2 separate regions of the Homo sapiens genome follow, and region 2 is linked to region 1. The links come from fine-mapping of genetic effects on gene expression. Tissue or cell type: monocytes after LPS. Region 1 holds a variant in brackets; the other region holds the start of a gene. All regions are shown on one strand. Distances are between the middles of the regions.

The links. PIP is the estimated chance that this variant, and not a neighbour inherited with it, causes the effect.
Region 2: RASGRF1 starts here. The variant in region 1 is fine-mapped to the expression of RASGRF1 in monocytes after LPS (Quach 2016, PIP 0.95).

What each region holds. Positions count from the first base shown.
Region 1 is chr15:79,015,366-79,021,281 of GRCh38, reverse strand. RASGRF1 (Ras protein specific guanine nucleotide releasing factor 1) reads left to right here. Exons shown (of 27, transcript NM_001145648.3): 11 at 1,178-1,241; 12 at 3,376-3,512; 13 at 5,873-5,916. Among named protein-coding and RNA genes, the nearest start is that of RASGRF1, 72 kb to the left of the region's middle. The variant C/T (reference allele first, on the strand shown) is at 3,336.
Region 2 is chr15:79,087,791-79,093,020 of GRCh38, reverse strand. It overlaps RASGRF1 (Ras protein specific guanine nucleotide releasing factor 1), which reads left to right and starts at 2,241. Exons shown (of 27, transcript NM_001145648.3): 1 at 2,241-2,798. The coding sequence starts at 2,523.

The DNA.
Region 1 (5,916 bases):
TCATTATTGTTTTACTTTATCTGTTGCTGTGTAACAAATTACCTCCAAATGTAGTAGCTTAAAACAAACATTTATTACCTCACAATTTCTGTGGGTCAGGAAATCAGGAGCTACTTACCTGGGTGGTCTTGGCTCAGGGCATTTCAGGGGTTTGCAGTCAAGATGTCAGCTGGGGCTGCAGTGTTCCGAAGGTTCAACTGGGGCCGGGGTATCCTTTTCCAAGATGATATGCCTCCATGGCTGTTGGCTGGAGGCCTCAGTTCCTCATTCATAGACCTCTCCCCACAACATGCCAGTTGGTGTCCCCCACAACAGGTGATGCAAGAGACAGCAAGAGAGCAAGCAGGAGAATGTGGTCTCCAAAGTGGCACACCATCACTTCTGATTTATTCTTTTAATTAGATGTAAGCCACTAAGTCCAGCTCACACTCAAGAGGAAGGGAATTAGGCTTTGCCTTTTGAAAAGAAAAATGTGAAAGAATTTGTGAACATGTCTTACAACCACCACAGCTGTGGCCACTCTTATTTCTCACTACAATGTTAAGGGACCTCCTACCCAAGAGATGCTCCCACACTCATGGATGGGAGGCATTTTTCCAGGTATTCCTAATAATTAAAATAAGTAACTGACCAGGACTGGGATCGGGCCCTTGAGGCTCTCTCCAGACTCACTGCTAACTTGCCAGCGGACCTTGAACAAGACATGCAACTTCTCTGTCTTCATTTCTTCACCTGTAAAATGAGAATTACAATACCCATAAGACCAGCCTCTGTCTTCCTGTGGGTAACCTGATAGCTTTGGCCTAAAACGGGGGATTTCAAACCTCTGCAGATTTAGGGCTATGAAGCGATGCCCTGGAGCTGCTGTGGAAGCAAGAAGGGGCCAAGCAGGCCAGGTTCTGTCCGCTCCACCCATGGCCAGAACTCAACCTTGGTTTGGGGAAGGCCTCTCTGAGACAATCTCCTTTGACCCACTTCATTGAGCTTCTTATATGAAGATAAAGTCCTTCCACTGAAAAAGCAAAATACCCACTTGGCATATAATATATCCATCCATACATCTGTGTGTATACATGGATGCTCCTTGTTAAAGTCCCCTCCAACCCTATCATCCAGGGACTCCTAAACCAGCATATCTACCCCTCAATCCAAAGCAGCCCCTGCTGCTCTTTTTCAGAATGGAGTCATATCCCTCATTGACTGCACTTTATTGGAGGAGCCAGAAAGCACGGAGGAGGAAGGTGAGTGTGAAAGCTGCATGTGCGCATGTGTGTGCTTGCACAGATACACACACGCTCACTCCTAAAGGTTGGGCCAGGCATTAGTTTCTTTGGGAGGAATGGAGGATGCTGAAGTGCGGAGGGGAGGTCCACACATGCCCTCATGCACACACCCTGTTCAGTCCCTGCTACAGCTGGGCTTTGCTCCCCTTGTACTTCCAATAAGGTGTGGAGAGGCCAGAGCCTGAGGCTTTAAAGAAAGAGCTCCCAGCCCGGCAGGTGATGACCCTGATCCACCTTCCTGGTTCGTTCCAAGCTCCCTGGGCTGCTGGACCAGTTGGCACTGTTAGGTTTTGGGGTCACAGCATCTCAGTGAGCACCCCTCATTCACACACCTGTGTGTGACATGCACAAGGGCTCTTGGGGCCATGTGCTGGAAGCCAGGGACACACCCAGCCCTATCTCTGTCCTGCAGTGGAAAAGGAAAGAATGTGCAGGGGCCACTGACAGAGGGATTGCAGGGCTGAGGGTCCTGAGAGAGAGAACCATGCCCTTGCAGGGGCCAGGAGGGGAGGCAAGACCTCGGTGAGAAGGGGCTGAACAACTCAAATGGGGCTGAATGGGGAAGTGTGCGGAGGGCAGAGTCCTTGGTGCTGTGATGTTTGATGGGATTTATCTCCCAAGGCATCAGAATTGGAGGTGGGGTCATTATTCAGATTAGGGGGTGGGATCACTACTCTCTCTTGATTGGGCCAAAGTTGGCACTCATTTCCCTTCTTCACTGACCCCAAGCCAAGACCCTCAGAGATGTCTCTGGATGCCCTGCCCTGTGGGGACACCAGCAGGACCCGTGCTCTTTTCCCTCCTCAGACTGGGCCTCCTGGGGTGGGCTGTGTCTGAAGCACCTCAGCATCACAGGCCCAGCATGGCATGGGGATGGGCATGGGCCTGGGGGTTGCCACACACACGCTTGGCAAACACACACACACACACGCCCTCATGCACACACCCTGTTCAGCCCCTGTTACCACTGGGTTCTGCTCCCCTCATGCCCTTCCAATAAGGGCCAAATCAAGTGGTTCCCCAAGGGAAGAATAAACGAGGAGGCAGCTTACCTGGAGCCTTCCTACCAGTGCAGCCTTCTTTCATCTTGGCCACAGCAGGTCCACAGGAAAACCCAGGCTCAAGTGGCACTGTCAGGCCCCAAAACTCTTTACCCTCCTAGGCCCAGGGAGGTGGGATCCTGGCCACAAGCGTTCCCCACCTGAAACACACCCACACACAGGCACCCACTTCTCAGAGACTCCAGCACAGTCCCAGGAGAATGGGCTCCCTCGTGCCCAGCAAGGACTCCTAAAATTCTCAGGTGTCAGAACTGGAAGGGACAGGAACCTCAGAGAAATCAAGTCCCACTCCTGTTGCACAGGAGGACATCTGAAGCCCAGAGGGGGAAGGAAACCACCTCAACATCACACAGCCATAGAGCTTTGGAGCAAAGCAGAACCAAAGCAGGCCCTTTACACCATGAACCCATTCAGTGCACCCCTAATTAATGTGAGTGCATTGAAAAGAATCTTGAAGCTGTGGTTTTAGTTTTTCCAAATAAACAGCTTTCAAGACTTCAAGGGACTTTCAGGTTAAGAGCAGTAACAAAAATACCTAGAATTCACTTTTGCTTTGGGGAGCTCTAAACTGAACTAAATGTCCAGCCCAATCCATAAAAGTTTAAGACCTTGAAGTTCCTCATTTGGCCCCAGAACCACCTTGGGGTAGCAGGAGGGCCTGGCTGAGAGGCCCATTCTAGCCCTGCCCTGGCTTGGCCACCACCCTGCTGGGAGCCTTGGGCAAGTCCTCGCCCGTGACCTCACCTCCATTGGTGTAATGAGGGCAGAGGGCAGACTGTGATTCCTAAAGGCTCTCCTGCTCTGAATCCGGAACTGCCCCTGAGTGGTTGTAAGCTACGTCTTAGTTCTTCCATCTTTGAAATGGGGATTTCCCACTTAGGAAAATAATATTCTGAAAGTAGCAGCAATTGGCCTGGTGCCTTACCAACGCAGAGCCTCCACTGGTACGTACGACAGGGACCACTAAAACATTTTCCACCTGAAAAGGCGT[C/T]CACATTCATGCTGCTAACTTTATGTTTTACAACTGGAAGCCAAAGGATCCGGCCAAGACATAGATCACTTGGATTTTAAAATCGGGGTGGAGCCAAAGGATTCCCCGCCCTTTACAGTCATCCTAGTGGCCTCGTCCAGACAGGAGAAGGCAGCGTGGACCAGTGACATCAGCCAGGTGAGTAGCGTCACCTGTTCCTGAAAGCGAGTGGTCCCTTCATGCCTAACCAGGTCAGGGATTTGGCTGGTGGCAGGTAGGGGGTGGGGGTGGTGGAGTAGCTGCACTGTTCTACAGAGAAAGATGCAAGAATCTTCCAAGTCCACAGCCCTACCCAAAGCTGAGCTCAGCTAGTCCATCCCGTTTGTAGTCCCCTGGGTCACCTTGAAAGTGTGGTCTGGAAACCCCTCTTGCATCTGTATCACCTAGCAAGGTGATTTTAAAAACTTCAGTTTCCTGGACCCTTCTCCCCTTTCCCCACTATCCTGCAGACCTACAGATCTAAATTGTTGGCATGTGACCTGTAAATCCGCATTTTAGTACATGCCCCAGGTCATTGATACGCACAGAAAAGTCTGAACATATTAGATGTAATAATGTTCACAGCGAGAGAACGGTGTCCCTGAAAGCCAAGGGTAGCTTCTTCAGTGAGTCGGGGCAGCTACCTAAGATCAAACCCAGCCTCAATTATGCACACGGAAGATTTAGTTTTGCTTTGGCCTGCTGTAAGCATTAGGGTCATTCACCCTATTTGGAGCATTAAGCAGGAAGCACAGACTTTTCCAGGCACCAGTGAGCAGACCCAGAATGCCCATGGGTGCCTAAAGTACAAGGGGTGAGACTTGAGTCTATAAAGAGGCTGTCAGCAGCACCGGGGTTTAGGCCCCAGGACAGGCCCCTCCCTGAGCCCAGCAAGGGCCTGTGATGGGTCAGGGATGTGCCATCCCAGCAGCTGGGAGCCTTGGCCATCCTCTCTGCGGGGTGGGGTGGTAGGAGAGCAGCCAACAGCAGAAGGGGAGGGAGGTTGGTGGCCCCCCATGGTCTAGAGGGTTGCAGGAGGCCTGTGCCTGTAGAAACTGAAAGGGCAGGGCAGCATCTTCGTGGGACCTAGGACGGCTTCCCTTGCTTGCTCCCCACCTTCTTGGTTTTGTGCCCCTTCCAGGCTCCCCTGACTGCCGCTCCCAGCCTTCCTTCTGGCCCACCTGCCCATCTCGCAGTCCCAGAGGAGTAAGGCGGGTGGGATGATGCATGGCACGTGCCTGTTCTGAGTCTTCCCACATGTCTTCAAAACACCCAGAAAGCCCTAGAGAAAACTGCAGACCCTGAGCTTTGCCCTTTCACATCCCCAGTGAGCCGCAGCCGTCAAAGGCCTGGGGCTGCTTGCCCAGAGGGTGCCCACCAGGCCTCTGCCCTCCTGGCAGCCGTTGTGGATGCCAGTGAAGGGGTCAAGGTGGGAGTCCTCTGGCCCCTTCCCCAAGCCCTCCTGCCTCCATAACACTCTGAGCCCATGGCCAAGTCTTCTTTGTTTTGGAGTTGCTGGTAGAACCAAAGCTAGAGAGATTGTCAGATGGGTGGGAGAAGTGGGGCTGAGAAATGCAAATGACAGAAGCCTCCCTCTTTGGGGTCGTGGCCTTGCCCAGAAGTCTGGGCCTGGGAGCTCCACCACCCACTGTGCCAGCTCTCAGCTGCCACTTCCCAATGACTTTGACACCCTCCTCCCTGCAACACACACATTCTCAAAACCAGAAGATTCTGTGATGTGCCACCAAGCCTTCCCTATCGCTATGCCAAGAAGAAACCCTCTCATGGCAGAAATGTGAAGACCCAGGGCAGGGGACAGTGCAGGGGAAAAGAGGCAGCTCCCCCAAGAGATGCAGTTTTTATTTTTGTTTGGGCGGGTACTTCCTATTCAAAGCAAAATTTGGATTTTGAATATTTTTGGAGGCCGAGTGAAATGTACAATCATCTGTGCCCCTCCCGCCAGCAGCCTTGCCTTCTCCAGGGCCCCACACCCATGGACTCTTCATATGGAAAACCATCCACAGCATCCAAGTGTTGGCACTGTGGTGGTCAGAGGACAGAGAGAACAGTTCAGCACCCTCGTGCAGTGGCGCAGAGGCCCTGCTGGGCTGGCCTCCCAGGAGAGAGATCCCACATCACCATGGATCTGATCTTGTCCTTGACACTGGACCCCAGAGGTCAGCAACAGAATGGTCAGTGTCAGATGCATTCATTTTGCATCCCAGTGGTTGTTTGTAATCAACCCAGTGAGGTAGAAGTCATTATCCCCACTTTGCATATAATGAAACTAAGACTTGAGGTCAAGTAAGTTCCCCAAGGTCATTCAACTGAGACTTGACTTCCGGCCAAAGTCTAAAGGATGCGCCACGCTGACCCTGCCTTTGCCAGGACAATGCCCTTGAAGCTTGAGGACCCTGTATCAGACTGAGGCATGTGAACTTTACAGTTGGCAGAGCTCCTGGTGGGCCTGGGTCCAGGAATGGAGAGCTCTGACCCTGGGGTCCTCTCTCTGATTCCAGTGTGTGGATAACATCCGATGCAATGGGCTCATGATGAACGCATT
Region 2 (5,230 bases), 72 kb before region 1:
TATTTGTGAAGAAAAATCAGCACCACTGAGTCCTTGGGGTCCCTAGGACTGGAACGATGGCACTAGAGGGAGGACTAAGGTTAACAAGGCCAGTTCCTCCCCCAAAATGCTCCCACTCCAGGAACACAGGCCTGCCTCACTGTGCTCAGGACAGGGGCAGCTCCATTCCTCCACAGCAGAGCTTCTCTGTGGATTCTTCCGTGACCTACACAGGGCTGCCTGGTTTCCAAGCCCTTCCCTAGGGCTCCAAACTAGGGTGTGTGTGTGTATGTGTGTGTGTATGTGTGTGTGGTGTGCTGCATGTGTTGTGTGAGGTGTGATGCGTGTGTGTGTGCAGCCCAGGTTTGGTCTGTGGGAGGGGTGTGTTATGTGGTGTGTGTGTGGTGTGGTGTGTGTGGTGTGGTGTGCATGGTGTGTGTGGTATGTGTGGTGTGTGGTCTGGTGTGTGGTGTATGTGTGGGTGTGGGTGTGTGTGGTGTGTAGGGGTGTGTAGGGGTGTGTGTGGTATGTGGGTGTGGTGTGTGTAGTGTGTGTGGTGTGTGGTGTGTGGTGTGGGGAGTGTGGGGGTGTTGTGTGTAGTGTGTGGTGTTTGTATGGTGTGGGTTGTGTGTGTGTGTGGCGGGGGGTGTGGGGGAGTGTGGGGGGTGTGTATGTGGCATGTGGTATGTGTGTGGTGTGTGGCATGTGTGTGGTGTGTGTGTGGTGTGTGGTGTGTGTGTGGTGTGTGTGTGGTGTGTGGCATGTGTGTGGTGTCTGTGTGTGGTGTGTGTGGCGTGTGTGTGGTGGGGTGTGGGGGGGTGTGGGGAGTGGTGTGTGTGTAGGGTGTGTGGTGTGTGTTTGGTGTGTGTGGTGTTTGGGTGTGTGGTGTGTGTGTGGTGTGTTGGTGTGTGGTGTATGGTGTGTGTGTGTGGTGTGTGGTGTTTGTGTATGCGGTGTGTGTGGCGTGTGTGTGTGCGTGTGTGGTGTGTGTGGTGTATGGTTTGTGTGTGGTGTGTGCGGTGTGTGTGTGTGGTGTGTGTGGTGTGTGTGTGTGGTGTGTGTGGTGTGTGGGTGTGTGGTGTGTGGTGTGTATCTGTGCGTGTGTGGTGTGTGCTGTGTGTGAGTGTGGGGTGTGTGTGTGTGTGTGTGTGTGTGTGTGTGTGTGTGTGTGTGTCGGGGGAGGGGTATACGCAGTTTCCGTGCGGAAAGATGGTGTCTTTCCTTCACAGGGCTGCGCGGGCACCCATCCCCGCTGCAAAGCGCCCGGGCCAGGCGCGGCTTGCTCCGGGTCGGGGCGAGCTCGCTGCCCTCTGCGGCAGACAGCGATGCGCGCTCCCCGCCCCAGCTCCCGGCTCGCCCGGCGGCCCGCGCGCCCTCCCGGTGCAGCATGCGGGCGCTGTGACGTTCTCGGATAAATGCCGTGTAACTGTGTAGGCGAATGAGAGCTAAAAATAAGAACGGAAAATCTATCATTAAGGTATCATTGCGCCAGCGCAGCTATTTGAAGGCTCCCATGGTCCCCGGCGCCTGCGTTTGAAGCCCGCCTTCAGGCTTTGGGGGGTATTTGCAGAAAACTCCCAGCAGCGGCTCGCCAACCAGACCTCAGGGTGCACGGGGGGTGGCGCCGGTAATTATGGCAACTCTCAAAATAAAATAATATAAAATAAAGTAACCAACGTTCACCAACCACCACCCCATCTCACCCCCTGTACTGTCCTCAGGTAGCTGGGGAAGCCGCCGGGAGTGCAGCCGGATGCTGGAATTCAATGTGACCCGGCTGACTATGCAAAGACTAGGACTGGACGCTTTTGCAGCTCTATTTCGCCACCCACCTTCCTCCTTCCACCTCGTATTAGAAATAAAGTGGGGGGGGGGGGCGAGCCTTTGGAGGAGAAAATGACAACTGGCACTTAACCCCAGGTCTACAGTGCGCCGCGGTGGGGCGCAAAGACGCAAACTCCCGGGATGGCGAGCCTTCGGGGTTTCATTGGGTTAAACGAAAATTGATCTGATTTGCTTTTTAACATCCGAGGGAGAGAAGGGGAGATGAGGGGAGGGAGGGCAGGGTTTGAGTGTGTGCGTGTGCGTGTGCGTGTGTGTGTGTCTGGGGAGGGGGAGGAGGCACCAAGTTGCAGCCTGCGCGCGGCTCTGCGCCTCGGCGGGGCTGCGTGCGTGTGTCCCTGTCCGCGCTGCTGAAACGGGCTCTTCGAGGGATCGGCGTCACATGACTCCGCCTGCCCCTCGCCAGCGCGCAGATCGCCAGTCCCTCAGTTTGCCCGGCACCGGAGGAGGGTCGGGCGGCATCTTCCGGGTACTGGGGCTCTGCGGAGCGGAGAAGAGGTTCCAGCGGGGAATGGTATATCTGGATTCAAGAAGCCGCGGCTCGGCGCCAGATCCTGGAGTGTAGATATTTGGGGGGAGGGGAGAGCTAGAGGGAGCGAGCGAGCGAGCGCCAGAGAGAGGCAGCGCGCAGCGCGCACGGACGGGGGGCTGCTGCGCGGAGAAGATGTAAGCGCGTGGGGTCTCGCTGGCCTCTGAGCACCATGCAGAAGGGGATCCGGCTGAATGATGGCCACGTCGCGTCCCTGGGACTGCTGGCGCGCAAGGACGGCACGCGCAAAGGCTACCTGAGCAAGCGGAGTTCGGACAACACAAAATGGCAAACCAAGTGGTTCGCGCTGCTGCAGAACCTGCTCTTCTACTTCGAGAGCGACTCGAGCTCGCGGCCCTCGGGGCTTTACCTGCTGGAGGGCTGCGTCTGCGACCGCGCGCCCTCCCCCAAGCCGGCGCTGTCGGCCAAGGAGCCGCTGGAGAAACAGGTGAGGCGAGCGTCGCGTCCTGACCTCCCTGCGTCCCGGCCGCGGCCCTGGGGGCTCAGGGCCTTCGGCTGGCTGATGGCGCTTGAACTTTGGCCCCTCTACTCTTGGCGCCCTAGGCGCTCTCTGCACCCTCAGCGAGAGGGGAGGCTTGCTCCCAGCCAGGCGAGTGACTGCGGCGGGCAGAGGGGGCAGGGATTGAGGGCGGGGAGTAGATGTGGGCTGCGGCTGCCCTTCGCCGGACGAGCCCCGTGGGAGGCGGGTACAGAGGGGCCGACACCTGGAGATGCAGAGGAAGATGGGGTCCTAAGGACCAGAGACGATGAGTCTGGACACACGTCCAGCCAAAAATGGTGCTCCCAACCCCCACTCCCACCGCCCAGCCCTAATAGCCCCGATCGTCTGTTCTACACCGGGAACGTGTAATTCCCCGCGCTTAGGCATGGGAAGGGCAAGACGGAGGCGTCCGAGCGCTGCCAGCCCTTGCCTCGCCGCAGCTGAGGGCGGAGAGCGGTCTGCGCTAGCTCCTCGGAGTTGGGCTGGGGTTATGGGGCTACACGGGTCGGTTCGGTACCATCGAGCGGTGGTGGGCTCCCAGCTGGCGGCCGCCGGAGCAACAAGCCCAAAGATTCCCAAGGACCGCTCTGATGCGCCGGGGCTAGGGCCAGGGCTGCTGCGGAGGCAGCGGGACGAAGTGGGCGCTTCTCTCCTCCCCCGCCCCCTGCGCCGCCGCCGCCGCCGCAGTCGCGGCTATAGCGCTGCGCTCTGGTTTCCTGAGCTGCAAGGCTGAAGAGCCAGGCCTGGCTCTAACAGGGAGCCCGGGCGGGGTGGGGGTGAGCCTCTGGCGTGAAGGGAGGAGGGGCACCTGCAGAGAGAGCCACCTTTAAGCTTGGTGCGCTTTCCAAAAGCATCTGGTCCAGTCCCTTGCCACTAGGAAGATAAAGCAGATGATAGTGGATCCTAAAATGCCACTGCAGGCAGGAACCTTCCATCCATAGGGCCTAACGGCTGGTGATTGCCTAGATGGGGACACTGAGGCCCAGAGAGAGAAATTCACTTGCCCAGCGTCATGCAAGTTGTTGAGGCCGTCCCAATGTTCTGAAAAGACAACCGAGATCTCAAAAGCCACTGCTGCATGAAGACACAGACTGGTGGTGATTGAATTGGTTGAAATAAAAGCATCGCTTGAAGTCTTCCTCCCAATTGTCAGGACAGAGATCCGAGCTCAGTCTCTCTAGCACATCTCTTCCTTCCCTACCTTCAGCCAATGGGTGTTAGGAGATAGTTTCTGAGGACTGGGAAGTGTGGACAGGAATTTTTGAGGGTGGGTCCCTGGGGATGACAAGCCATGTGGTGAGCAGGGGCTCCCAGATGGAAAGAAGAGCAAAGAGCAGGCAGCTCCTTAAGCTTCAGCTCAAATGGAGCCTGGGGAACTCATGTGGAAGAGCCAGTCCCAGGCCAGACTAGAGAATTTGCTCTCAGCCCTTCAGAACTTGCCCCTCTCCAGCCAGTGTCTACCCATATACCCATACCTACCCGGGGCCTGCAGCCCAAGCCCCAGCCCCAGCCAGATCCCCCCTCCATCCCTCAACCCACTACACTAGATCACAGAGCTGAGCTCCTGGGTAGGCAGGAAGTGAGGGGTGGGGGAAGCCAAGTTGGCATGGGCTCATATTATCTGTTCTCAGCCCCCTGGACGTGAAGGCAGACAGGCCTGAGACTGAATCTCAGCTGTATGACTTCCTGGCTGTGTGACTTCAGTTAACTTGCTGAACTTCTCTGAGTTTCCATTTTGTAATCTACAAAATGAAGATAATAACACCTACCTTTCTGGGGTTTTGAGAGCCCTACATTAAATAATGTATATGAAAGTAAGCGCCCAATACATTTTAGTTAGATCTAGACGAATCACAGTTGAATCTGAATTATACCCACCTGGACAGAGCTATTTAGGTCACCAGATGTTAAAGTCGAACAGAACCTCAGAGATACAGCCTTCCCATTTTACAGACCAAGAAACTGAGAGGCAAAGAAAGGGAGTTACCCAACAACGGGGTAAATCAGTGGCAGAATCAGACCTAGAATTCATCCAATGCCTAAGAATTCCTGAAAATGAGACCCTACATTGATTTCAAATCATCCAACTCTTGGCCCAGGTATTGAATCATCCTAGCAGTAGATCATGGGAGGAACATCAGTGCAAAACTAATTGATGAGATGCACTCATGTTCAGAGCTGTTTCCCCAGAACACTACTAGTCAGAGATCCTCAGGTTTGTTCACGAGAGCAGCCCTCCTGGCACAAGAGAACAGAACCGGGTTAAAAGTAGCAGATGATGGTCTGGCGCAAATTTCTGTTAAAGACTCATACTTAAATCACATATGTTTATATAGGTTCCATTTGCCTCTAGACCAACTTTGACTCCTGTGGAAAAC